Linked DNA regions of Homo sapiens. The protein of the gene in region 4 interacts with the protein of the main gene of each other region in a biochemical or structural test. Each region holds a gene or a part of one and is shown on either strand. Other genes may lie near its edges.

Region 1 (3,500 bases), on a different chromosome or scaffold from region 4:
CTGGAGTGCAGTGGCGCAATCTTGGCTCCCTGCAAGCTCCGCCTCCTGGGTTCAGGCCATTCTCCTGCCTCAGCTTCCCGAGTAGCTGGGACTACAGGCGCCTGCCACCACACCCGGCTAATTTTTTTTCTATTTTTAGTAGAGATGGGGTTTCACCGTGTTAGCCAGGATGGCCTTGATCTCCTGACCTTGTGATCCGCCTGCCTCGGCCTCCCAAACTGCTGGGATTACAGGCGTGAAAATATAGATAATTTTTTTAAAGGGCTGTCAGTCCACATCACTTCAGATAAATGCAGACTGTAAGAATGTTAAGTGGTACACAGTAGAAAAGACTTCTAGAGGCCTAGACACTGATAAATCTAGTCTTATACATTTACAAATAAGCAGAATACCCTTTAATTCTAGAGGCTTGGGGAGGACGAAAGGGACGACAGAACTTTGAAAAGCAGCTGTTTAACACTAACAATAAAGGGGAGAGAAGGGCAACGAGGGGGACATTAAAAAGACCGAGTTGGGGTGTGGGAGAAAAAGATGAGAGTGAAGAAGTAATTAAGCAGCATCAGTAGCTACTATTCTGACAATAATCCCCGTGTCAGATAAGGTGCTGTGGGCTCTCCTCCTTCTCCTTCCTCCCCTGTGGGCTCTCCTCCTTCTCCTTCCTCCCCTGTGGGCTCTCCTCCTTCTCCTTCCTCCCCTACTCTAACGGCCTGAGTGTCCTTTAGTGTCAGGTCCTAAGAGTGCCATTATGGAGAAGCCGAGAGACAAATGCCAAATGGGAGAAGAACAAACTATGAGAAGGATGTGGGCCAAGTGACCAGAGAGCCAGACCCCAGGAGTCTCCCAACGCTTCTACCCAGCCCACACCCCTGGTCCTGCTGACAGGCAGCTCCTGTCTATGACTGCCAGCCTTCAGCCGGGACCTGCACCCTGCTTTGGGCTTACAAGTGAGGTCCTTGCTGTTTAGAACAGACATTCAATTCTTGGCCCAATGTGCTTACAGAGGAGACAGGGTTCAGGAATTGTTAAAAAATAATGGGAGACTACCTTCTTATTTAATTTCAGATCAGACATAAATACCCTTAATTCCCAAATTATTTCCCATTCCACACATTTCTCTTCTGCCTCAGTATTTCTATTCATAGCCTAGTCAAACAGGAAGTTAAAACAGTGAATGCAGAGGTCTTAAACCAGCAGGATGAGCCACATCCCATCCACATACACGTTTCTGGCTCAAGATTTTAAAACAAACGTGTTAGCTGCTGAGATGTTAAAATCAGAAGGTGACAAATAACCAAGACTTCTCATCTCTCTGAAGATGTGGAGATCAGAACGTGGGCTCAGCTTCCCTGCAAATGCAGTGATCCACGGGCGACAGCAGGGGCCCTCAGCCTTCTGCAGCCTCCACCGCCCATTCTGCTTTTACTTTACCAACCCAGCGTTTGAATCTGTGACTTCACACAGATAAGTAAGACTGAACTAAAGTTAGAGTTAATGACCATCTACAATTGAATCCAGGTTTGCTACTAGTGAATAAGGGCAACTGCAAGCAGTTCTTTTGAATAAAATCTATTTTCAACTCAATGACCCAGAGTGGTATTGTGAGGTAAGAAATAGCCATCTGGTCTGCGTCCCTAGTTCCCGGCACAGAGCTCCTAAAACTCTTGTAACTTCCTGAATGTTAGGTGTGCAAGGTGTATCTTTTGTTCTGATATTTGGTCTCTGACCCTGGCTCCTGACACAGATCTCCTAACCCTTGGAATTTCCCGGGTGGTAGGAGCATCTTTTGTTCAAATGAGGTGACTCCTGGTGGGATGGGGGCTGGTCAACAGAAGGACCAAGCCAGGATTAGAAGCTTGGAACTTCCAGCTCCACCTCCCATTCTCTGGAAAGAAAAGTGGGGCCAGAGGTTGAGTTAATAATCAATCATGCCGGCCAGGCATGGTGGCTCACACCTGTAATCCCAGCACTTTGGGAGGCTGAGGCAGGTGGATCACCTGAGGTCAGGAGTTTGAGACCAGCCTGGCCAACATGGTGAAACCTTGCCTCTAATAAAAATACAAAAAATCAGCCGGGTGTGGCGGTGGGCGGTGGGCTCCTGTAATTCCAGCTACTCAGGAGGCTGAGGTGAGAGAATCACTTGAACCTGGGAGGCGGAGGTTGCAGTGAGCCGAGATTGTGCCACTGCACTCCAGCCTGGGCAACGAGAGCAAAACTCTGTCTCAAAGAATAATAATAACAATAATCGATCATGCCTATGTGATGAAACCGCCGTAAAAATCCTTGAGCTACAGGAAAAGAGATTCTGGGGTGCTGAACATGTAGGGGCACCTGGGGCAGGGGGGCATGGAAGCTCTGCGTCCCTTCCCCATGCCTCGCCCTATGCATCTCTTCATCTGGCTCTTTATTTGCATCCTGTAAATTGAGCTTTGTAATAAACTGACAGTAGTAAGTAAAGTGTTTCCCTGAGTTCTGTGAGCCGCTCCAGCAGATTAATTGAACCCAAGGTGGGAGTGGTGGGAACCCCCTTGATCTGACTCCAGGTAGACAGTGTCATGACTGTAGGACACTCAGCTGGTGTCTGCTGCACAGCTGCTTGGTGGGTGGGGCAATCCTCCCTTCCCATGCTGTGGTCACAAAACTGTTCTGTGTTGTGCTGAGTGTGGGAACAGCAAAAACAGTTCGGTCTTCCCTGTCTCTCCCACTCAGCCATGGGCGGGCAGGGTGGGACCTTGCACCCCTCTCCTCACCTGGTCCTTGGTAGGCCTGGGGGTGGCCGAAGGCAGTGTCCCAGTTGTTGGGAGTGTTTGTGTTTCTTTGGGCTCCAGCCCCCTCTGGCTGGGCCCCCCAGCCTTCTGAGCTTTCCCAGTTCCCAGATTTGGAGGCACTCCAGGCTGACCAGGGGTCATTGCCACTGCCAACCTATTGAGAGGGGTAAAAAGAAGGAGAATTTTTGTGACTTTTGGAAACCATGACTCAATTCAATAATGAACTGACACAATTGAATACAACAGGAGTACTAAAAACAATTAATAGAAATGTATTCAAAACAATTTTACATACATAATATTTTAATTTCCAAACATGTAGGAAAGCACAAAAGGTAGCATCAATCTAATTTTACTGATGTGAACACATTTTACCGTATTTGCTTAGGAACTTTGAAAACAGCAACAAAGAAACTATTAGATGCAGCTACAGCCCTCTCTTTCTTTCTCTCCAGAAGTAACCACTACTTTTCTGAACCTGTATCCATTCCTATGTGTGTTTTCATACTTCAGCTGCACATGTACACATTCACAAACAACTGCTTTATATTTTTAAAATTGACCTAAAGGATGTCATACTGTATGTATCTCTTTGCAAGTTTTCTTTTTCCCACTCAACATGAGGACCTATTTCTAACTGCTTTATAGCGATCTGTTGTATTTTTAAGTAGGCTTTTTAATTTGAAATGGAATACATGTATAATAAAAAAAATTCAAACAATAAAAGTATATGCA
Region 2 (3,500 bases), on a different chromosome or scaffold from region 4:
AGTTTAATGCAGCCAAGTGTGGTGGCTTACGCCTGTAATCCTAAGACGCAAGAAGGCTGAGGTGGGAGGATCACTTGAACCCAAGAGTTCAAGACCAAGCCTGGGCAACATAGTGAGACCTCATCTCTACAAGAAATGAAAACACAATTAGCCGGTGTGGTGGCACATGCCTGTAGTCCCAGCTACTTGGGAGGCTGAGGCAAGAGGATAGCTTGAGCCCAGGAGGTCAAGGCTGCAGTGAGCTGAGACTGCACCACCACACTTCAGCCTGGGCAACAGAGTGAGACTCTATCTTAAAAAAGAAAAACTTTAATGCTAGATATGGCCTGTGACCAGAGCTTACCACTGCCTCCATCCAACCCTGGGTCTCCCTGCCGTCACCACCCCCTCTTCCTCATCCAGGGAACCCAGCCCAGGCCAAATTTCTGTGCTCCTCCCCCTTCCCCCATCCTCCACTTAGACTGGATTATTTTGTCCTCCTGATCACCTCCCCCACCCCAACGCTCCACCGAGTGCCTCAGACCTCCTTCTTTCCCAGCAGACTCCTGAGCCTGCAGGACTTTCCCTGAGGACCGAAGAATCAAACTTTGGAAGCAAAAGCCAGGACCCAAACCCCCAGTACAGCCCAATCATCAAACAGGGGCAAGCCCCAGTCCCGATGCAGAAAGAGGGGGCCGGGGAGAAGGAGGTATTGGGCTGCAGGGGCTGAGGGAGTGGGAGGACAGGCCTGCGAGGGGGTGCAGGCAGCGGGGAGGAGGAGGGGCCTAGCGGGGGCAGAGGCTCAGGCTGGGAGTTAGGCTGGGGCTTTAACCCTGCCTCCCTCACCCCACTCCTCCCTGGCCTCACCTTCTCTCCCAGCCCTCCCAGCTGCTCAGGCCCAAGCCTCCCATCCCCGCCAAACCTCAGCTGCCCCCAGAAGTCTACACAATCCCTGTTCCACGACACCGCCCGGCCCCACGCCCCAAGCCCTCCAATCCTATCTACAATGAGCCTGATGAACCCATAGCTTTCTATGCCATGGGCCGGGGCAGCCCTGGGGAAGCCCCCAGCAACATCTATGTGGAAGTGGAAGATGAGGGCCTACCCGCCACCCTTGGGCACCCTGTCCTACGGAAGAGCTGGTCCAGGCCTGTCCCAGGAGGCCAGGTAAATGGGTATGCAGGGAAAGGTAGGTGCAAGAAGGTCTCCCTGCAGGTAGATGGGGGAAGGTGAAGAAGGTGTTCAGAGTGGATGCCTGGGGCAGGGTAAGGGGCAGAGGTGTGAGGTGATGTGGGAAGAACAGAATGATCCAGGCACCAGCCTCCCTTCTCCAGGCCCAGAGGCTGCCCCCTCTTCTCCCCAGAGTCGCTCAGACCTCATCTTTGTCAAGCCCCCATGCCCTCCTATCTCACACAGAAAACAGAGGCCCCCAGGCAGGGTGCCCCTCCACCTCCCACATCGAGGCTTTTTTGATCTGCGTCCATCTTGTCCTGCAGGCCCTCTTCAGACGCACCTGGGGCTGACCCCACCCCGTGCCTCTCTGGCTCTCTCCCTTGGCCTTCACGGCCCTGCTGTCCTGGAGAAAAAGAGCACTTGGGTTCCCTTATGTCATCTCAGTGAGCTCAGGGGAGGGGGACCCTGCTCTCCCAGCCTGCTTCTGTGTACTCCCTGTCTCCCTCTTCCTTCTCCCCAGCCCTAAGTCTTCTTGCCTACCCTTCAAGTCAGTACCTCATGCCATGGGTTAGCCCCAGCAGCCATCCCACCCTCTCCCTCGGCCTCTGCGGCCCTCCCAAAGCCCTTCCCCAGCCTCCCTCCTCAGACCCTTCCCCATCCTCCCTCCTTGCTGGTGCCCCAGGCTCCCTGCTCAGCCTGAGCCTGCTCGCGCTCACCCACACCCCTGCCAACGTCTGCTGTCCTAGAGCTAACGTCACCTGTCCATATCTCCGTCCAAACTTTTTTCCAAGCTTCTGGTCAGTTCCCCCCAGCATCCCTGAGCCCCTCAAACTCAACACGGCCAACAGCGCTCTCACCCTTGCCCTCCAAACAGCTCGGTCCCATGTTCACTGTCCTGATTGCTAACTCTCCAGCTACCCAGCTAGCCAAGCCAGAATCCCAGGGCTCCCTCAGCACAGCTCCCTCTTTACTCCCCCAGTAAGCCACTCATTCCTGCTGGATCTCTTCCTAAGTATATTTTTCCTTCCCCCAGCTCCAGCCCCCATCATTGGGGTCTGGCTTTGTCACCCAGGCTGGAGTGCAGTGGCACAATCATAGCTCACTGCAAACTTGAACTCCTGGGTGCAAGTGATCCTCCCACCTCAGCTGAGATTACAGGCTCGAGCCACCTCACCTGGCTCCCAAGAGCTTCTTAACTGGTTTCCTAACCACCATTCTTGCCACTTCTGATCCACTCTGCACCAAAGAGCCAGAATGGTCTTGCTGAAGCAGCTGCCTGGCCCATGAAGCACTCTAGACTTGGGTTGGGTGGGGGGTCTCACCTCCTTAGCCTTACCACCAGCCACTCCCATTCTCCTAGAATGATTCACATTTCTCTAAACTCACCAAGTGGTTTCAAGCCTCCTGGGGTTTGCACCCGCCAGTATCTCTGCCTATAGCAACTTCCTGCAACCTCATCCTCCCGCTGCCTGGCAACTTTCTAATCATCCTTCAAGACCAGCTTTCCCTTCTCAGAGGCCACCCCCTGTGCCTTACACACACCTGCCATGCCACTGATCACCTGAGACATCCATCTCCTCCCATCTCCTTCTCTCTGTCCCTTCCCTAGTTTAGAGTGTGAGTTCCCTGAAGGGAGGGGCTGGGACTTACCCATCTGTTTCCAAAGCACCCAGCCCAGTGCCTGGCACAGAGCAGGTGCTCAGGAGATGTTTGTTGAATTAATGAATGAGAGGAGTTTAGATACCCTCTCTGGAAGCCAAAGTCTGTTCAGATCAGATGTCTTGAGACTGCAAGTACACCTAGGAGGCAGAGGGTAGAGGGTGTGACCTAGAACTGTCCTTCTCTCTGCAGAATACAGGTGGCTCCCAGCTGCATTCTGAGAACTCTGTGATTGGGCAAGGCCCTCCCCTGCCCCACCAGCCCCCACCCGCCTGGAGACACACCCTCCCCCACAATCTTTCTAGACAGGTGCTTCAGGACAGAGGACAGGCATGGCTTCCCCTTGGGCCTCCTCAGTAGGCGGTAAGTCTGAGCTTGGTGAGGATAACTTGGAGCATCAGGTCCAGAGACCTTCACACACACCTGGCACACTTCTCAAGAAATGTGGATGGAATAAACCATAGGTGTTCAAAGCTGGAAAGGAGCTCAGCCATCATCTATTGCAAGGATGGCAAAGAGGTGTCATCTTGCATGCCAACTCCAATCCATTGGTCGTGGCTGCCTAGAGTGCTGCATTGGAAAGGATGTTAAGGTCATATCTGAACTCAGCAGAAAAAAAGCACATGATTGATTAGTGATGTCTGCCACGGGTAAGAGCGGGAGGATGAGCAGCATTACATTTGTCCTTA
Region 3 (3,500 bases), on a different chromosome or scaffold from region 4:
CAGGAGGCAGAGGTTGCAGTGAGCTGAGATTGCACCACTGCACTCCAGTCCTGGGCGACAGAGCAAGATTCTGTTTCAAAAAAAACTGCGAGAATTTTGGAAATCACCCATTCCAACCTAAGTCATTCCATATAAACATCTCAATTTTGTCTTCTATAAAATGAACTGGACTAAATTCTAAGGTGGTTTAAGCTCTAAAAAAAAACTCTTAGGCCGGACATGGTGGCTCATGCCTATAATCCCAACACTTTGGAGGCTGAAGTGGGTGGATCACTTCAGGTCAGGCGTTTTGAGACCAGCCTGGCCAACATGGTGAAATCCCATCTCTACTAAAAATATAAAAAATTAGCCGGGCGTGGTGGCGGGCGCCTGTAATCCCAGCTACTCAGGAGGCTAAGGCAGGAGAATAGCTTGAACCTGGGAGGGGGAGGTTGTAGTGAGCCGAGGTCATGCCATTACACTCCAGCCTGGGCAACGAGAGCAAAACTGTCTCAAATAATGATAATAAATAAAAATTAAAAATCCTCTAAATTTTATAACAGTGTAAGATTATAGCTATGACAAAATTGCTATAAGTTTAACCTTTTGCAAAAGTATTGCAAAAATTAACACTTTTACTAAAGGAAAAGTGTTAGTTTTTCTAAAAGATGAAACAGTACTAGTCTTCATCTAGCCCTAAATGTAAACTAGGAAATTAATTACATAAAATTTTGGCAAATTGTATGCTTAATCTGTAAGTCACACAAAATGCATTCTCAAATATCTGCCACATGGGTAGTATCCTAGAGTACACTAATTTGGCCACGTTAAAACAATACATTCTCAATGTAATACTTAGGCTTCGACTCTCACCCTAGAAAAAGGTACCCATTATCACTTGGGGGAATTCACAGCTTTAAATACTTCCCAGTGCTACACATACAAACACACACAGTCAAGCAAAGGGAAACAAATTAAGCATTACAGCTTTTTTCTATGACAAGGTGAATGCAAAATAATCTTGCCCTCTGCATTGCAGAAGAATAGTTCTTGCAACCCATGGAAAAGCAAACACATCAAGAGATCTTAAATGTCAAAGAAGGCTTCAGGTAATAGCCTCAAGGAAAGATTTTACTTATAAAATAGTTAAGAATGTTTTTATTTTAAAACACTGAACACATAAGTTCTGCACAACAGCTGCAATGAAAATTCTAAGCACAGACACACTGCAACGTTCTAGAAAGAAATGTTACCCTCACAACAACAGCATTCTTTTTAAAGAATACTACTAACTGCAAAGATGAAGTGCAGAAAGCCTTCAGGAAAAAGTATTAAAAACACTACACTTCTGGCTATCAGTTTTGGTCACTTAGTGGTTAAAAAGCTGTCAGGCTATTTTTGCATTTTACGCAAGTGATCATTAGTTAATCTTTCACCTACCAAAGTCACTAGAGTCTAAACCTATTATATTCACAAAGAATATAACAATTTTAAATGTCATCTATTAAAACATCCTTTATTCTATATCACAACTGATTACATCTAATAATATCAAATGAGGTCTCTCTTCAGTTAAAATTAAGACTTGGTTTTGAAATATCTTGCATAGCCTAGGGCCCAGTTCAGCACCAATGAACTGATAAAGAAAACTAGGCAGTTAATCATTCAATTCAATATTACCTGTAAGATTTGCAAATGGATTTTACACTTGATTATCACAGCTGTATTTCTTCTCTTTGCTAAACATTCATGTACTCTTTATAAGCCTGAATTTAAAAACCCACCAAGCCTTTTAGTTGCATTACATAACACGATCATATTTCATCAACATTAAGAGCATGCATTCTCAATGAGCAGATGCTTAGCTTTTTCTTTAATGGCTCAAATTATTAGGAAATAAACAACTTTGTTTTTTAAAGTACAATAAAATTATTTCAATTCTCTGTTTTAATTTAAGCAATACTACATATCCATAGTCATTTTTGCCAGGATATTTGATTTTAAAATCCATAAAAAAAGCATTTTGGTCCAGAAGGCTCCGATAAGAATAGGTCAAGATTGAAATAAAGCTCAAATGTAAGTTGCTAAATGGACTGAAGTCAAAACAAATCTAATTGTAAATAGTACCTCACTTTACTCCACAAGGGTTTCTAAAGAGGAATTCAAAACTGATTTGTAAAGCAATCCTATTTTAGTGCATTAGAAATGCTCACTTATACTTAAAAACAGTTAAGTCTTCTCACAAGTAAATCATCTAAATATAAAAAGGATTTAAACTAAAAACCAGATGTGCTTAAATTTAGGGCAAATCCAAATGCCCTGGGTTTTTCAAAGGGCAAAAGATATAGTTTTAATAGCAATTAAGTCAACATCAATACTGCCAACTTAACTACTTAACATGTAGGTAGAGTTCAGTCTGTGGCTTATCAAAGTCTCAAGACTTAACTGTAACTTGACCTTTTTGCTGCTATCTACCACTTAAAACACTGAGAAGACAGAAAAAAAAGTTACTTTGTGCAGTTTGTTGAATCTCCATTATTAACACGGCAATCTTTCAGTATGTATTAGCCTAGTTAATAACCTATGTAATAATTACATTATTTTCTCCTTTATGACTTTAGGGGAGGCCCGGCATGGTGGCTCACACCTGTAATCCCAGCACTCTGGGAGGCCGAGGCGGCTGGATCACCTGAGGTCAGGAGTTCTAGACCAACCTGACCAACAAGGTAAAACCTGTCTCTACTAAAAATACAAAAATTAGTTGGGCGTGGTGGCAGGTGCCTGTAACCCCAGCTACTCTGGGCGGGGGGCCGAGGCAGGAGAATCGCTTGAACCCAGGAGGCGGAGGTTGCAGTGAACCGAGATCACATCGTCGCACTCCAGCCTGGCGGACAAGAGCGAGACTTCTCAAAGAAAAAAAAATTGCCTGGGGTGGTGGCGCACACTTGTAATCACAGCTACTTAGGAGGCTGAAGCGGGAGGATCACTTGAACCCGGGAGGTGGAGGTTGCAGGAAGCCAAGATCATCCTACCGCACTCCAGCCTGGGCACTCCAGCCTGGGCAACAGAGATTCATCTCAAAAAATAAAAATAAAATAACAAAATCACTTGAGGGTAGGGTATGACAGAGTATAGTAATTCACATACACCTATACACATTTAATGACCAGTCATGGTTCAAGTCCTCAGGAGGGGCTTATAAACTAGATTTATATTTTTTTTTCAGAAGTACTTGAACACTAGATTCTAACAGCCACCTCACAACTAAATTGGCTGCCAATCAGCACCTACCTTTATATTAACTTCTCTGAGGAGTTATCTTTCAGTCATTAATGTCTCTACACTTTATATCACTAATCATTAATGTTCATAATTAGTATTAACACATTATTAATGTTCACAATCATTAATATTTTATGTTCAATTACTGTCCTAGAAAAAAACATTTCCAAGAAATTCTAAAGAATCAAAAACTCAAGTAGCAGCCAGATCAGCAGGCTTGCTTACTGCATTAAAATTTT
Region 4 (3,500 bases):
CCTGGGAAAAGAAAGGAAGAATAGAGAAACAAGGAGATGATGGGAGCTGAAGGGTTATTATGGGCAAGGTGGACCACTTCAATTTTATGAAATTCTTACCGATTTATTGGTTTCTTTAACAATATTTTATTTATTTATTTTATTTTTTCAGAGACAGGATCTCACACTGTCATCCAGGCTGGAGTACAGTGGTGTGATCATAGCTCACCGTAACCTTGAACTCCAGGGCTCAAGCAATCTGTCCATCTCAGCCTCCCAAGTAGCTAGGACTATAGGCACGCACCACCATGTCTGGCTAATTTTTTTGATTTTTTGGTAGAGACAGGGTCTTACTATGTTGCCCAGGCTGGTCTCGAACTCCTAGGCTCAGGTGCTCCTCCCACCTCAGCCTCCCAAAGTGCTGAGATTACAGGTGTGAGCCACCATGCCTGGCCAATTTTGGGAAAAAACCAAAAAATTCAAAAGTGACTTATTGTGGAATATTTAGAAAATTCAGAAAAGTAGAAAAACAGTCACAAACTTTTTTGAAAGACAGAAAAGAATAAATGAACAAAGGGAATGAGACTGTATTCTTGGGTTGCAAGATATGACTATTTTATTTTTCCCTAGTTATATAAATGTAATACAATTTCAGTTAGCATCTGAATGGGTTGAGGGGATTGGGATTTTTATCTTAAAATTTCCATGGAAAAATTCATTAAACCTATTATAAAGCCCCTGATAATCAATACAGTTAAATAGGAGGAAAAGCTTAGAGGGTATAGAAGTAAATCATAATATCTTTAGAAATATAATGGAAAATAAATATGTCATTTGAATTTAATGGGGTAAAGATTATTTAATAAATGAACCTGGCACAACTGGCTATTTGTCTGGAAGGAAATAAAGTTGGATTCCTACACCCTACAAAGTCCAAAAATAAATGGATTAAAGCTTTTAAGTAAAAACATGAAACAATAAATACCTTGAATAGAAATTGTGGAGAGTGTATTTTCAAAATAACTAGGGACTGAGGGAACCTGTTAAACCAAGATCTAAAACCCTAGAAATTTTAAAAGAAAATATACCTGTTTGAAAATGTAAAAATTTTTAAAATTTTTTTCTAGCAAACAAATTAAGTAAACAAAGTTGAAAGGTGAAATAGGCTGGGAAAAAGCATTCTCAATGCTTTGGACAGATAAATGGTCACACCGTAATGTTCAAAAAGCTCTCCGGAATTGGTAAGAAAAGGGCGAGCGTCCCAGTGGAGAAGTGGTGGCATTCACTCTGGAGTCTTCCTGCTGCCGAGGCCTGAGGACAAATGCGGGCAGATGCCTGTCTCCCTCTCTTACCTTTGAAGCTGCCTCTGGGTGTATTTTTTTTTTTTTTTTTTAACTGCTTTGCTAATAAGAAAATGCTGTGCTTCCCGCACCAGATTCTGGTTCTAGATGTGCTTCCAGAATTCTCGGGAAACCCTTTCCTGTCTCCAGAAAACCCTGCCCTTCACACCAGATATCCTCGTTGGGGTCCCACTGTGGCATCATCAGAAGATAGGGGGTAGTCCGGTGAGGCCTGGGAGGAATCTGTCACAGAAACCAGGGGCGGTGATCTGGGAACTAACAGTGGTCTCTGAGGGCCCCTGTGCTTCCCCACCAGGTCTGGATTGAGGCTGCATTCCTGAGGCAGGAGGGAGTGTCCCTGGAGATTTTTGAGCTGGGCTCTGGCATGATCTGCTGCTTCTCAGACACCCCCCGCCCAACCCCTAAACTCCTGAGCTCAGGCAGGTGGAGCCCACCACATCAACTGCACTCACCCCTGAGAATTTTGTTTTTGAATGCAGAGTGGAATTTAGCTGACACAAAAGAATTTGAGAGGGGAGTGCGGAATTAATGGCACGGTGTAGCCTGTGGCTTATGTGGTTTCTAATTCAGAGGTATGTGGATTACGTGAGTCTGTAACATATGCTGATCTAATTAACCAAGTTAAAAGGTTAAAAATCCACTTCAGCCTACATACCAAGAATGGGTCTAATTGGAAACAATATTTCAACAACAGTCCCCACGAATGCCTAATTTACTGGTAAACACTCACTCTAATATTGATGATGATACTCATTCTCTTTTCCTCTGTTCATAAAGTGATCATTGCCTGAGTGAAACAGTCACGAGAGAGAGAGCGAGGGAAGAAAGGAGGGAGGGAGGAAAAAGTGAGGGAGTGAAACATTAGGAGTTGGTGAACATTAGTTGATTGAGTGACTGAGTCCACAATTCCAAAAACGTTCCTAGAAGACTCAAAATCTATTTAACATGAACTAAAGAGCCTTTATAAAACTTTATATTTGAGCAATAGATGAGGCTTAAAAGCAAGTCTAAAAGACAACTGCCCCAGTACTCAACCCAAAAAACACAAACTAGCCAGACACAGTGGTGTGTACTTGTAGTCGGAGCTACTCAGGAGACTGAGACAAGAGGATTACTTGAGCCCAAGGGTTTGAGACCAGCCTGGGCAATAGCGAGACCCAGTCTAAAAAAAGAAAAAAAAACGTCAACAACAACAAAAAAACCCACTCGTTCATCAAATCACCTGCAAGGCGCCTGAATGAAAGGTGTCCTTTCCACTGTGGCTCTGCTCAGGGCACCCACAGCTGCAGGTGAGTTAACCTGTCTGGCCCTGCCCCCTCTAGGTCTGTCCTCCCATGACTCACCTGTGTGAGAAAATCATCTCCACGCTGCCTTCCTGGAGGAAGCTCAATGGACCCAACCAGCTGATGTCGCTGCAGCAGTTTGTGTACGACGTGCAGGACCAGCTGAACCCCCTGGCCAGCGAGGAGGACCTCAGGCGCATTGCTCAGCAGCTCCACAGCACAGGCGAGGTGAGCCCCTGGGAGCCCAGGCAGGGGGCCGTGAGAGGTGCCAGGGACTCAGCCTGTCCCAAATTCCAGCTCTTGGAAGTGGTGTGAGCCTGGGGAAGCAGTGTGGAAATGGTCCAGCTAACCTACAACATTTCCACACGTGTGACAAACACAGCCTCAAGTGACGCTCTGAACTGCAGTTCTCGGCTCACCTTAGGAGCTGTCATTTTGTCTTGTCGTGTTTTGCTTTTATTTCCAGAGTCTGTTAGTTTGGGAGTGCAGTGCCCACTGCCCTGGGTGACTGGGTCTCTCTTCACTCCCCCTGGGCACCAGGAACTTAATCTGCTACTCCTGGCAGCCTTCAGGATGGCTTCTTTGTATCAGCGTGGAGTCATCAGCTCCACACAGATCTCCTGGGTGGGAAAACAGTTGAGAAAAGGCAGTGAGGTGTCCTTGTGGAGGCAATGTCTGGAGATACAAAGACAGAGAACTCTGGTGCACAGATACACAGAGTAATCATAATTAAAGATGCACATTAAAAAACTCTAGCAAGCAATGCCCAGCAGAAATGATTGAGAATGGGAGGCTTTGCTCTGGTTCTGTGACATTGAGCACCAGGGCGCGGTTTGGAAACCCTGTTCTAATGGCATCATATGCCTGTCCCAGGAAC
Region 5 (4,119 bases), on a different chromosome or scaffold from region 4:
TGTGGTCTCTACTTACATTTGACTGGAATTTAACTTCCTATTAGAGTTTTCGTAAATACCTTTATATAGGTAAAGGCAGCTAGGACTCTTCTGAAATGAGATTCAGAATATAGGTATACTGAGAACAGTTCGAATGGGAGATAAACACTACTACCTTCTATCTCCATTTTTGGTATTCTAATTCTTTGGAATTCATAGTATTTTTTTCCTCAAATTATAATTTTTAAAAAACATTATGTTGTTCATAGTTTATATTAATATTTCTTAAACTCCCTAACTTTAGATCTCTAGCCAATTCTTTTTAAAGTTAATTAAAGCAGGAATTAAAATTTTTTATAATACTTCTCATGCATAAATATTAAATAAGAAAAAATGTACTTGATGTTTCAACTTTCCCACCGGTTCAAAGATCTTTGGGATATGTAATCCATGGTCTGTAAGAATAAATGTAAACTTCAGTGCTATATAAACTATAGTCACTTTTTCATTTGTAGACTTTCCATCTTTAATAACATTTTATTGTGTAAATAAAAGCTTGACATACACTTTTTAAAACAAACTTGTACATTAGAATTCATTTTACTTGTGATTTACACATTAATACATATTTTAAACCTAGGTGCCACAGAAACAGAAGAACAGGTTTGGAATACAATTTAATATATTTTAAAATGAGTTACATATATTTTAAAAACATGAGCCGTTTTGTTATTTGACAGTTCTAGTTACTTTAATAGTTTCTATGGTAACATGCATTTAAATCTGTAAACACCTGGTACGTTCACAGTATTTGGTTTGATAAACTAATTAGTAAAAACTGTATTCAATCAATTGATAAATTAACTTTTTCTTTTATATTACAGGAAAACAACCAAAGTTTTAAGTAGCATTTTAAGAACAGATGAATTTAAGTTTGGACATCTGCAAATGAGGTGGATCTAGCAACAATAACTGTAATGGACTGTGACAATTCAATTTATTCTTAATTTTGATGGTTGGCTATTTGACTTCTCTAAAAATGAGAAAGAGCTATTTTAAAATATAAAGAATTTTCTAATCAGTTTCAGCTTTGCAGGAGGTTTCCTGCATAAATTGGGAAGTAACACTGGAAAGTAGGAATTTGGTTAGTGAAGTGGGAAGACTGTATATTTATAATTTGCATACTACTTGCAATTTTTTGTTTTTCATCACTTGTAATAATGGAATGGAAATGTAAGCTGTAAAGACTCTCAAATATAAAATATTTGCTACAGTGTATATATGGTACATAATTGCTTGTTGCTTTTAAAGTTCCTTCTGTTGTTCTGCTTCCCACTGATTTCATACCAGCTCATGAATGGATCATTACAGTCTCTCCAGAGGCTTAGAATGATTCAGAATGTTCAATGCATAGTTCTCAATAAACAGGAGGCAGAATTTTTAATGGGTATTTCTTTTCAGATATATGATTGGTCTCTAGGTTTTTGATAATAATATGGTCTTAAATTCATAATTACTAGCAGAGATTGATAATTTGGAAACAATGGTAGTGAATGAAACTGAAGTTGAAAAACGGCTGCTACTTATGTCACTAATCAGACCATATGAATAGCAGAAGTTGAGCAATTTCAAAGTAAAACTGATATTTTTATTTCCAAAGGAATTTAGACATTTGAAAATAATTGACATACATTAAGTTTTAATTCGATAATTTCTTATATATGGATGAACAATTTTTGGGTTTAAGCTTTTAATTCCTAGAAATTTTATACATTAAATCTCCTGCAATTTGTCACTCTGGATGTTACTGTTTAAAAAAAAAAAAAAAAAGGGTTTCTTCCAGAAAAATCTGCTGATATATAGGTAAGTAAGTGTAAACTCTCCCTAATTCTATTTCTTAGATCCCTAGGTCTATTGGCAAAAAGTTTGTTTCACTGAATTTTGAACTCCTAAACCAGTACTTTTTTTTTCACTGTTTTTTGAGCTTGTTTCCCAGATTCAAGCTTGTATTCCATGTTACGTTTCCCATCTTGGTCTTTTAGTGACCTCTTTTTTTTATTTTTTAATTTTTTAAATTTTTTTTTATTTTACTACTTTGTTCTTTAGGAAAATGGGGTTTTAAATAGAAAAAAATCTTCGTTAACTATAAACTTATTGTTTACTTTAGGATGAGATATTTATACTTAGGTCCCAGTTTTTTCTTTTTTTTTCTTTTTTCTTTTTCTTTTTCTTTTTTTTTTTGGCCCTACTAGTTTCCTTTTCTACTATAGGTTCCAGTATATATGTGTATGTGAATACACACTCACACACATTCACATACATACAACTCTCACAAACATACACAAAAATACATGTATAATTTGTATAAGAGCTGGGGTCAGAATGACCATATAATTATATTGGTTTGCTTTGTTATTTGCCCGTTCTCAAGTCATTCTAATTCTTGTTTCAGAATATGATAGAGCTTATTCCAGTTTGGAATCTGCAGATCCCTTCCACTTAGTACTGTTAATGAAAACAGAACCCTTTTAACAAGTAATACTACCATGCTACTTTGGAAACTGCCTAGTACCCAAAATATTTGATATGCTTTTTGAGTTGGATACTTAAATGCACCAACCAAAGCAATGTTTTGATTGGCTATAATTTGTATTTTTGAAACCATTTACAACAAACATTCTCAAGAAGAGTTTGTATGTCAAAAGTCATTTAGGTTTTAAAGTCTTTTGATCTTTTCTTACTATATACAATCAGTCTGCAGAGACTGTTATGTGTCTGTTTGCCTTTGTACATATATATAGCTTGTTTGAATAATCATTGTGCATCTCCATTAATGTTGTTCTTTGCTTTGTATATAAATTAAAAGAGTTGACCCAGGTGTTGTTACACAGTGTCTGTCATCCTTAGAGTTGACCAGAGGCACACAAATACACACACACACACACACACACACACACACACACACACACACGTGTGTATGTACAATATATCAAAATTTACTACTTATTTCTAATAGAACTATGAAAGGATTTTAAAATTTTATTTATACTGAATGAGAACTGAGAGTATACAAAGGTATTGGTAAAAGTTGCTGTTTCATGAATTAGTTTGAGAAAATATTTTAGGTCAAATTTATATTTAAGAAATAAAATTTTATTAGTTCAATCTTCCTTTTTTCCTGAGTTTTTCAAAGGGGGAAAAACAGGAAAATTTTACCTTATAATTTTCCTCAAAGACTTATAGTTTCAAAGGAATTTATACTAGAAAATAACATGGCTATACATTTTTATATGTATTGTATTTTCATTAGCAAGGTTTATAACCAGAACAGATTTTTATTATTAAAAATATTTAATTTCTGAGCTTGTTGAGCAGAGTGTAGATAGTATACTATCTACAGATAGTTCTATAGGTAGATAGTTTTAGTCATTCTAGTGTTGAAATTCGAAAACAGATGTCTTCTGTCTAATACTTTCACTACTATTTTATGACTTCCCTAAGATTTTGTGCTTGTTTTATATTTCTTAGTTATTCATTTGGGTTAAAATTTTATTTTTCAAGTATTTTGAAATCATTGTTTACATGCAAATATGTATTTTTCATAAGAAAAGTTAGCTGTCTGTATCGCATACCAAAACTATATAGCATAAAACTTGAACCACATTTTTCCAAACAGTCTCTTCTTTCTTGATATATTTAACTTACATAACAAAGAATTATGATGCTAATAAATGACACAATGTTGCTGTATTACTAAATGGTACTCCAACTTATCACAGGATTGTTCACTTTTGAAAAACCAGTCTATAACCTGATACGTGGATAGAGATTCTATAGGTTACAGCCAAGGTTGTTTGATGCCTATATACTAACTTTTTAACTAATGCAAAGATAGTAGTCATAGGGCTGTGAGTTGGGTTGGGGATGGAGTAGACATTGTTGAAGAATAAACTTCACTCACAGTTACTTAAAAATCACAAAACGCTGATTTAACCCTTTACAGTATACGACAGTTTACAAAATCTGCCCTATGAAGTAATACTCTAAAAGTTTCCACTTTATTTTTTCTTTATCATAACAGATTCATTTTCACAATATTATTCCTTTATGCATATGCTTTTTTCCACATATTAGGATTTT
Region 6 (4,001 bases), on a different chromosome or scaffold from region 4:
ACACCTTGGGCTTGTGGGTGATTCCTGGGGAGGGGGCAATGCCTGCCCACCTGGGCATCTGCCCCAAAGCCAGATGAAGAAGGACAACTCACTGGTTTGGGCTGGTAGCCACTGGTCCCCCAAAGCTTATGCCCTTACTGGTCTTTGCAACCCCTGAAGAGTGGGAGCTCTGGGGCCAGAAGTTCACCAGTCTCTGGGGATTACTCCAACTATTGACACAGCAGGAGAAAAAAATGAATTCAACTTACTATCCAGTTTGATTTTCCATTACTATAAAAATAAATATACATCTGCTCAAAGGAGGGAGATGGCAAGCAGCATGCACATGCCACCTGGGGGGTCCCCCCACAACCCAGCCTTCCTACCCCCCCACCCCAGGTTGGGGGACAGACTGGTAATCTTTCACTTACAGCCCCAGCTCACACAGCCACACAGAACAGGAACAAGCCAACAATAGAAACACCCCAAATGCCCCTGGCAGGACTCTGCCCAGGCCCGGGCACATGCCCCCGCCCAGCCGGCGGCGACAGCAGCAGCGGACAAAATGTGGCCACCCTGACCCGGAGGCAAAGCTTGTCCTCACACCCTGAGCTCTGCCCAGGGAGCTGGGGCCAAGTCCCGCCTGACACCAACTGGTCCGGCGGGAAACGCCTGCCCAGCCAGACAGGCACAGGCCCCCCAAGGGTCCCTCCTTGTGCTCAGGGACCAGGCTGGTACAGTCCGGCCCTGCCTCCCAGGGTGACGCCTGGGCCCAAATTCAGCTGGCCCTGCCAGTCAGGCACTGGTGCAGAACCGAGGGCACCAGGCTCAGCCCCTCCCAGCCCAGCCCCAGGGCCCCCAAGCTGGGAGGGAGGGGAGACTCCCCACCCCTCCACATCTGGCCCTGGCCCCCAGGGTCTGCGGTAGAGAATTCCCGCCCCCGCTTCTCTCCCTCCTCCCGCTCTGTGCCCGCTGCCCGCCTCAGGGACAGCCCCAGCTCCCGCCTCCGGCCAGCAAGGCCCACATCCTTCCTCCCTCAGCTGGCCCCTTCGCCTGGCAGGAGGCTGGGGGGTCAGGCTGCTGGGGAACCCCCCCAAGCTCCCATCAGTCCTCATCCCCAGCCCCCAAACTCTGGGTTGCTGTCCCTTTTCCTGTAGAACAGGAAACAAGGTTATTTCCTAGACTCAGAGCCAGCCCCCTGCCCCTCTGGCTCTGCCCGGGGACCCAGACCCAGCAGGGGAAGGCGCCCTCAAGCAGCGAGCAGAGATTCAGCAATTCACCCCAGCTCCCTGCCTAGGGGGCTGACAGCTGTCACTCAGCACCCCACCCCCTGGGGAAGAGGGGGCCGATTCAATCAGAGCCCCAGAGGAAACGCATTGATAGGCGATTATTTATTTATTTATGCAAAAGTGAGCCGACTTTGTTCGCCAGGTAACCGGGCACGCGGCCCAACCCCTCCAGCCCTAGCCGCCCCCAAATCCCTCCTCCGCCCCACACCCCCTCCGGGTCATTAGGTCCCCGCCCCTCAACTCCCCGAGAGCCAGTGGATCCTAGGGATTTGGGGGTTGGAGGGGAGGGGCTCCTCCCTCCGCAGTCTCCCCTTTTCCCAGCGCCGATCCTAAAATCCAGCCTTGTTCTCCGCTCCCACGGTCCCCCCTTCATTCCCCCCCCCCCCACATTCTCAGCAAGCTGGAGAGCAAATTGCAGTTTTAAATCCAAAGGCGGAGGGAGGGGGAAGGAGGAGGGGGCGCGCGGCAGCGCTGGGCGCGCACCTCGCCCCCGAGCCGGGGGAGCCGCGGGGCGGCCAGGAAACCCGAGAACCCCCCCTCCCCGCCCCCCCTCCCCGTCCACCTCCCCCTCCCCCTTCCCGGCGCTGCCTGCCAGGCTTCGAGCCGAGCCCAGCCGAGCCGCGGGCCCCGGTGGAAACAAAGACCGATCGCACCGCGGGCACCGCAGCCACCGGGTCCAGCGGACCGGACCGGGGGACGCAGGCCCCCCCCGTGCGCTGCACAAAAGAGCCTGGCCGGCCGGTCCCCAGCGGGGGTCTGGGGCTGGGGAGGAGGCGCCACTCACCGGAGTGCTGGGCTGCCGGCTCCGTGGGTCCGAGCCAGGCGAGGGGTTTTGGGGGACGTCTGTCTTCCGGCGGTGGCAGCGACGCGGGCGCCCGGCTGCTGAGGAGAGGAGTCGTGGAGGAGCCCTGAGCCGCCCGCCGTCGCTGACAGCATGGCTCGCGCCTCGGCTCACATTCTCCGCCGCTAACTCCGCTGGACACGGCCCCCCGCTCCCGCGGCGCCCCCCCACCTCGATCACTCCTTCGCTCTCTCTGCGCCCCCCTCGCCCTCCCGCCGCGCACACACTCTCCCAGCCCTGGACACCCCCGCCCCCACCCCCCCCAATAGCAAACCTGGGAGGGAACGCGCCCCGCGTAGTCCTCCTGCTCCTCCTCCTCCGCCCTCCTCCCTCCCGCTCTCTCTGGCTGTCTGTCTGTCTCTCAGACTGTCTCTATTTCTCGCTCTCTCTGCCTTTCTCTGCTCTCCAAGCTGGGTGGGAAAAGGAAATGAGGACAGAAAGCAGACGCTGGCTTTGGGTGGTGGTAGCTGGATTCCCTCTCTCCCTCCCTCCCCCTCCTCCCCTCCCTCCTCCTGCCTTCTGCTCTCTCCGCTGCGAGCGGGGCTGAGCGCAGCCTGGCGGGTGGCTCGCTCTGCCCGCCCGCCCGCCTGTCTGTCTGTCTGGTCCGCCTCGCTCGCTCCCTCCCTCCGTCTCTCGCCCTCGCCCTGCCTGCCTGCCTCTCTCCGTCTCCGCCGCCGCCGCCGCTGCCTCTGCGAGCTCGCCTTACCTTCGCCGCTCACCATCCGGAACCCCAGGGGGGAGCGCGCGCGCGGCACGCCGGGACTTGTAGTCCCCGCCCCGGCCGCTCCGCGCGCGGGGAGGGCGGGGCCGCGCCGGCTGCTCCGACGGCGCGGCCAGGAGCCCCGGGGACCCCGCGCCTGGGGCTCGTCTGGCTGGAGCGCGTCCTCGTTTACCAACGGGCGAAGATCCTCCCCAAGGGTTAAGAATGGTCCCTGTGTTCCTTGTCTCCACCGGGGGGCTCTGGATCGAGCGGAGGTTGCGGGTGGGAGTGAAGGGGCGGGGTCTGAGAGTGGAATGGGAGTGGAATAGGGAACCAGGGGATTAGCCAAAGGGGCTGCGACTTTCTGGGGCGTCCCAATTAAATGGGAGGGGGAGAGGGCAGAGGAGAGGACCGGCTCTCTCAATCTGGGGACGTTATCCTTTTCTGAAAAGGTTTCTTATTGAGTAAAGCTCAAGTATATATGGCGGGAGGGCTGCTGGGGCGGGGGAGCGGGGGAGACCCAGCCAGCGCTGCTTCCTCACTCAGTGACCCCTCCTCTCAAACTCCGACCTCGGTTTCGCCCTTGCAACTCCCAGCTTTCCTATATGTCCAAGGGCGGCGAGGGCTCAAAAGTCCTGGATAATCCGCAGATAGAACACACACACCCTTTTCCGAATTCTGCTGAGCATTTGCGTTGTGTCAGGAAGCAGGATTCAGATTGAACGGTGCTGACCTCCTGCCGCGGCCGGGGGCTGGGCTCAGCACTTTCACCTACCTCCTCTTCAGGTCACATGTGTTCTCCAGCCCCTGCCTAGCCTATCCCACAGATGGGAATGTGCGCTGCTTGGGGGCCTTGTTACCGCCCCCGGAGATGGCTGAACTGCTGCGGTAAAATAGTGCTGTTATTTCCATTTTAGAGATGGGGGCACTGAGGTCCAGGTTCTCCAGTTAGCAAGTGGCTGAACCCAGCTGGATTTGAACCAGGGTCTGACTAACTCCAAACCCCACAAGCTTAACCCCTGGGCTATGACAAGGAGTTGTGACTCCCTCCATTTCTGTAACTGACCTTCTCTCCCTGTGTCTGTGTGTCCTTTCTTGGCACTTCAACAAATGTTAACTGAGGTATGCAGGGCTTGCAAGGGACACGGAGATGAATAATGCATAGTGGCTGTCGTGTCCTGTGTCCTAGGTG
Region 7 (3,500 bases), on a different chromosome or scaffold from region 4:
ACCCCCCAACCTCTTTTTTTTTTTTTTTTTGAGACAGGATCTTGCTCTGTCACCCAGGCTGGAGTGCAGTAGCACGATCATGGCTCATTGCAGCTTTGACCACCTGGGCTCAAGAGATCCTCCCTCCTCAGCCTCCCAAGTAGCACAGGCACAGTAGCACAGGCACACACCACCATGCCTGGCTAATTCTGTAATTTTTTTGAGACAGGGTCTTGCTATGTTACCCAGACTGGTCTCAAACTCCTAGGCTCAGGCTGGTCTCAAACTCGTGGGCTCAAGCAATCCCTCTGGCCTTGGCCTCCCAAAGTGCTGGGATTATAGGAGTGAGTCATCACGCCTGGCTGAGAAGCCTTTTAAACTGACTACTTTCCTCATCTCCAAATTCAGAGTAAGCATGCACAGGTAAAAGAAAAGTCTCTGAACATCTCCAAGTTAAAATGAGGAATAAGCAGTGCTGAGCCATGGAAAACTGTATGGGAGGATAAAGGGATCATGAATGGGTTTTTAGCTTCCTGTGAGCTGAATCTTATAGTTAAAATAATGATGTTACCTTCAAAATCTTCTTTATGCTATGGGTAAGACATGAGGGACCCCACCAGTGGAGACATCTATATTTAAACAAAATTATAAATATAACCCAAAGTCAAATAGAAATTATTTTCAGCATTTTAACCACCATCCCTCTCTACTATGAGAACTGAAAGTTCCGTTAAAAGAGCACTAGTACTTAGTGTCCTGGCTACTGTAAAGTTGCAAAGGAAATCCCTAATCTTAAGAAGTTTACAGTTACTGCTTGAGTCAAAACATAATAGCCCCACTGACACCTTCCATGTACTTCATTAACTTGTTAGGTCTCAAAATATAACTACTACTCCCACTTCTAAATATATACCCAAAAGAATTTAAAACAGAGACTCAAACAGATATTCACATACCCATACTAGCAGCAGCATTACTCACAATAGCCAAAAGGTGAAAGCAACCCATGTGTCCACTGATAGATGAACAGCTCAACAATATGTGTTACATATGTACAACGGAATATTACTCAGCCTTAAAAAAGGAAATTCACACATGCAACAACAGGGATGAACCTTAAAGATATTATGCTAAGTGAAATAAGCCAGTCACAGAAGGACAAATATTGTATGATTCCACTTATTTGAGCTGCCTGGAGTAGTCAAATTCTTAGAGACAAATAGAATGGAGGCTGCAGAAGAGAGTTAATATTTAATGGATACAGAGTTCCAGTTTGGGAAGATGAAAAATGTTCTGGAAGTGGATGGTGATGATGGTCATACAATAACGTGACTGTACTTAATGCCACTGAACTGTACACTAAAAAATGGTTAACACAGTAAATTTTATATTATGTATATTTTACCACAATTTAAAAAATCACTACTTCCAGCTTGATAAAGTAGAGCAAATACAGGAATAGGAATTCTAAGATGTGGGTTCTTCATTCTGCCACCAGGTAGCCTCAAAATTCTGAGCAAGTTCCTTAGCCTTTCAAAGTGTTATTCCGCTCACAGATTTGTAACAAAGATCAAATGAAAATGTATGAAACCATGCTCTGAAGGAACCAAAGCTGCATATATGAACATAAGGTACTATTATGATTAGCCGCAAACCTGTAAACAGGTGCCACAGAACTATGCGGGGAGAAGCGCCAAAGAACATTAAGTAATTCCCTCACCTCCTGTACAAGTGGTTGCTGGAACAACGGAATGAGAGGATTCGTCCTTGGAATGTCAATGTGAATCTGAAAAAGAGAAGGCATGTCCAAAAACACAAATGCCAGTTTTTTTTTGTTTTTGTTTTTTTGAGATGAAGTCTCGCTCTTGTCCCCCAGGCTGGAGTGCAATGGCACTATCTCAGCTCACTGCAACCTCTGCCTCCAGGGTTCAAGCGATTCTCCTGCCTCAGCCTCCCAAGTAGCTGGGATTACAGGCACCTGCCACCAGGCCTGGCTAATTTTTGCATTTTTAGTAGAGACGGGGTTTCACCATGTTGACCAGGCTGATCTCGAACTCTTGACCTCAGGTGACCCACCCGCCTTGGCCTGCCAAAGTGCTGGGATTGCAGGTGTGAGCCACCGTGCCTGGCCCAGTTTGTTCTTTTGACAATTTTTTTTTAAAGAAATGGGAATCATCTGGCTGGGTGCGGTGGCTCACGCCTGTAATCCCAGCACTTTGGGAGGCCAAGCCGGGCGGATCATGAGGTCAGGAGATCGAGACCATCCTGGCTAACACGGTGAAACCCTGTCTCTACTAAAAATACAAAAAATTAGCCGGGCGTGGTGGCGGGTGCCTGTAGTCCCAGCTACTCGGGAGGCCGAGGCAGGAGAATGGTGTGAACCCGGGAGGTGGAGCTTGCAGTGAGCCGAGATCGGGCCACTGCACTCCAGCCTGGGCGACAGAGCAAGACTCTGTCTCAAAAAAAAAAAAGAAATGGAAATCAAAGTAGTAAGAAAACACAATTTATCTTCAGAAAGAAGTGACTGACACAGGAAAAAAATCTAGTTATACCTACCTGCCCATGTGGAACATGTTTCCATGACAACAATAGCTTATTAAACAGTGAGGAAACCTCCCAAAAGAAACCACTAAAGTCAAATGGCAATAGGCTTCACAGATTAAGGGTTTTTTCTTATTGCTCTGAAGTCTGTTTCACTCTGGGCTGGCATGTATGTAGCAGGTATGATCCAAGTAGGTACCCATCTTTCAGAATCTTACTCATCAACAGTTCCTAAGAACTAGAAGAGCTCAGAAAGCTGCAAAAATGTCCTAAAATAGGGAACCAGAGATGAACTTGCTTATGAAGTCATGATGTGTAAGAAGCGGGGAAGGGCCAGGGCGATGGCTCACGCCTGTGATCCCAGCACTTTGGGAGGCTGAGGCGGGTGGATCACTTGAGGTCAGGAGTTTGAGACCAGCCTGGCCAACATGGTGAAACCCCGTCTCCACTAAAATTACAAAAATTACATGGTGGCTCATACCTGTAATCCCAGCACTTTGGGAGGCCAAGGTGGGTGGATCACCTGAGGCCAGGAGTTCAAGACCAGCCTGGCCAACATGGCGAAACCCCATCTCTACTAAAATTACAAAAATTAGCTGGGTGTGGTGGTGTGCGCCTGTAATCCCAGCTATCCAGGAGGGTGAGGCAGGAGAATCGCTGGAACCCAGCGGACAAAGGCTGGAGCAAGCCGAGATTGCGCCACTGCACTCCAGCCTAAGTGACAGAAAAAGACTCGGTCTCAAAAAAGATAAAGAAAAAATTAGCCGGGCCTGGTGGCACATGCCTGTAATCCCAGCTACTCAGGAAGCCGAGGCAGGAGAATCACCTGAATCCAGGAGGTGGGGGCTGCAGTGAGCCAAGATCACGCCACTGCACTCCAGCCTGGACGACAGAGTGAGACTCCATCTCAAAAAAAAAAAAAAAAAAAAAAAAAAAGTGGGGAAGGACCAAAAGGAGTTGGCCTTCAGTAACTGAAGCTG

The links.
Region 1: the proteins of DAPK1 (region 4) and SNX9 form a complex in vitro, tested with the Homo sapiens proteins (one large-scale study listed by BioGRID and IntAct).
Region 2: the proteins of DAPK1 (region 4) and SH2D2A form a complex in vitro, tested with the Homo sapiens proteins (one large-scale study listed by BioGRID and IntAct).
Region 3: the proteins of DAPK1 (region 4) and CAPRIN1 form a complex in vitro, tested with the Homo sapiens proteins (one large-scale study listed by BioGRID and IntAct).
Region 5: the proteins of DAPK1 (region 4) and NECAB1 form a complex in vitro, tested with the Homo sapiens proteins (one large-scale study listed by BioGRID and IntAct).
Region 6: the proteins of DAPK1 (region 4) and AHDC1 form a complex in vitro, tested with the Homo sapiens proteins (one large-scale study listed by BioGRID and IntAct).
Region 7: the proteins of DAPK1 (region 4) and TBC1D22B form a complex in vitro, tested with the Homo sapiens proteins (one large-scale study listed by BioGRID and IntAct).

What each region holds. Positions count from the first base shown.
Region 1 is NC_000006.12:157,896,246-157,899,745, reverse strand, and holds part of SNX9 (sorting nexin-9), read right to left. Parts: intron 2,920-3,500; coding exon 2,748-2,919; intron 1-2,747. UniProt on the Homo sapiens protein: Involved in endocytosis and intracellular vesicle trafficking, both during interphase and at the end of mitosis. Required for efficient progress through mitosis and cytokinesis. Required for normal formation of the cleavage furrow at the end of mitosis.
Region 2 is NC_000001.11:156,806,849-156,810,348, reverse strand, and holds part of SH2D2A (SH2 domain-containing protein 2A), read left to right. Parts: intron 1-541; coding exon 542-688; intron 689-858; coding exon 859-1,146; coding exon of another isoform or gene 1,147-1,212; exon of another isoform or gene 1,213-3,003; coding exon 3,004-3,171; 3' UTR 3,172-3,174; exon of another isoform or gene 3,175-3,500. UniProt on the Homo sapiens protein: Could be a T-cell-specific adapter protein involved in the control of T-cell activation. May play a role in the CD4-p56-LCK-dependent signal transduction pathway. Could also play an important role in normal and pathological angiogenesis.
Region 3 is NC_000011.10:34,054,731-34,058,230, reverse strand, and holds part of CAPRIN1 (caprin-1), read right to left. Parts: intron 1-3,500. UniProt on the Homo sapiens protein: mRNA-binding protein that acts as a regulator of mRNAs transport, translation and/or stability, and which is involved in neurogenesis, synaptic plasticity in neurons and cell proliferation and migration in multiple cell types.
Region 4 is NC_000009.12:87,700,367-87,703,866, forward strand, and holds part of DAPK1 (death-associated protein kinase 1), read left to right. Parts: intron 1-2,662; coding exon 2,663-2,851; intron 2,852-3,500. UniProt on the Homo sapiens protein: Calcium/calmodulin-dependent serine/threonine kinase involved in multiple cellular signaling pathways that trigger cell survival, apoptosis, and autophagy.
Region 5 is NC_000008.11:90,955,775-90,959,893, reverse strand, and holds the end of NECAB1 (N-terminal EF-hand calcium-binding protein 1), read right to left. Parts: 3' UTR 888-4,119; coding exon of another isoform or gene 864-887; 3' UTR 501-863; downstream 1-500. Other genes in the region: uncharacterized protein C8orf88, read left to right, coding at 864-887.
Region 6 is NC_000001.11:27,601,345-27,605,345, forward strand, and holds the start of AHDC1 (transcription factor Gibbin), read right to left. Parts: upstream 2,801-4,001; 5' UTR 2,762-2,800; intron 2,520-2,761; 5' UTR 2,384-2,519; intron 2,151-2,383; 5' UTR 2,053-2,150; intron 1-2,052. UniProt on the Homo sapiens protein: Transcription factor required for the proper patterning of the epidermis, which plays a key role in early epithelial morphogenesis. Directly binds promoter and enhancer regions and acts by maintaining local enhancer-promoter chromatin architecture.
Region 7 is NC_000006.12:37,285,272-37,288,771, reverse strand, and holds part of TBC1D22B (TBC1 domain family member 22B), read right to left. Parts: intron 1,766-3,500; coding exon 1,700-1,765; intron 1-1,699. UniProt on the Homo sapiens protein: May act as a GTPase-activating protein for Rab family protein(s).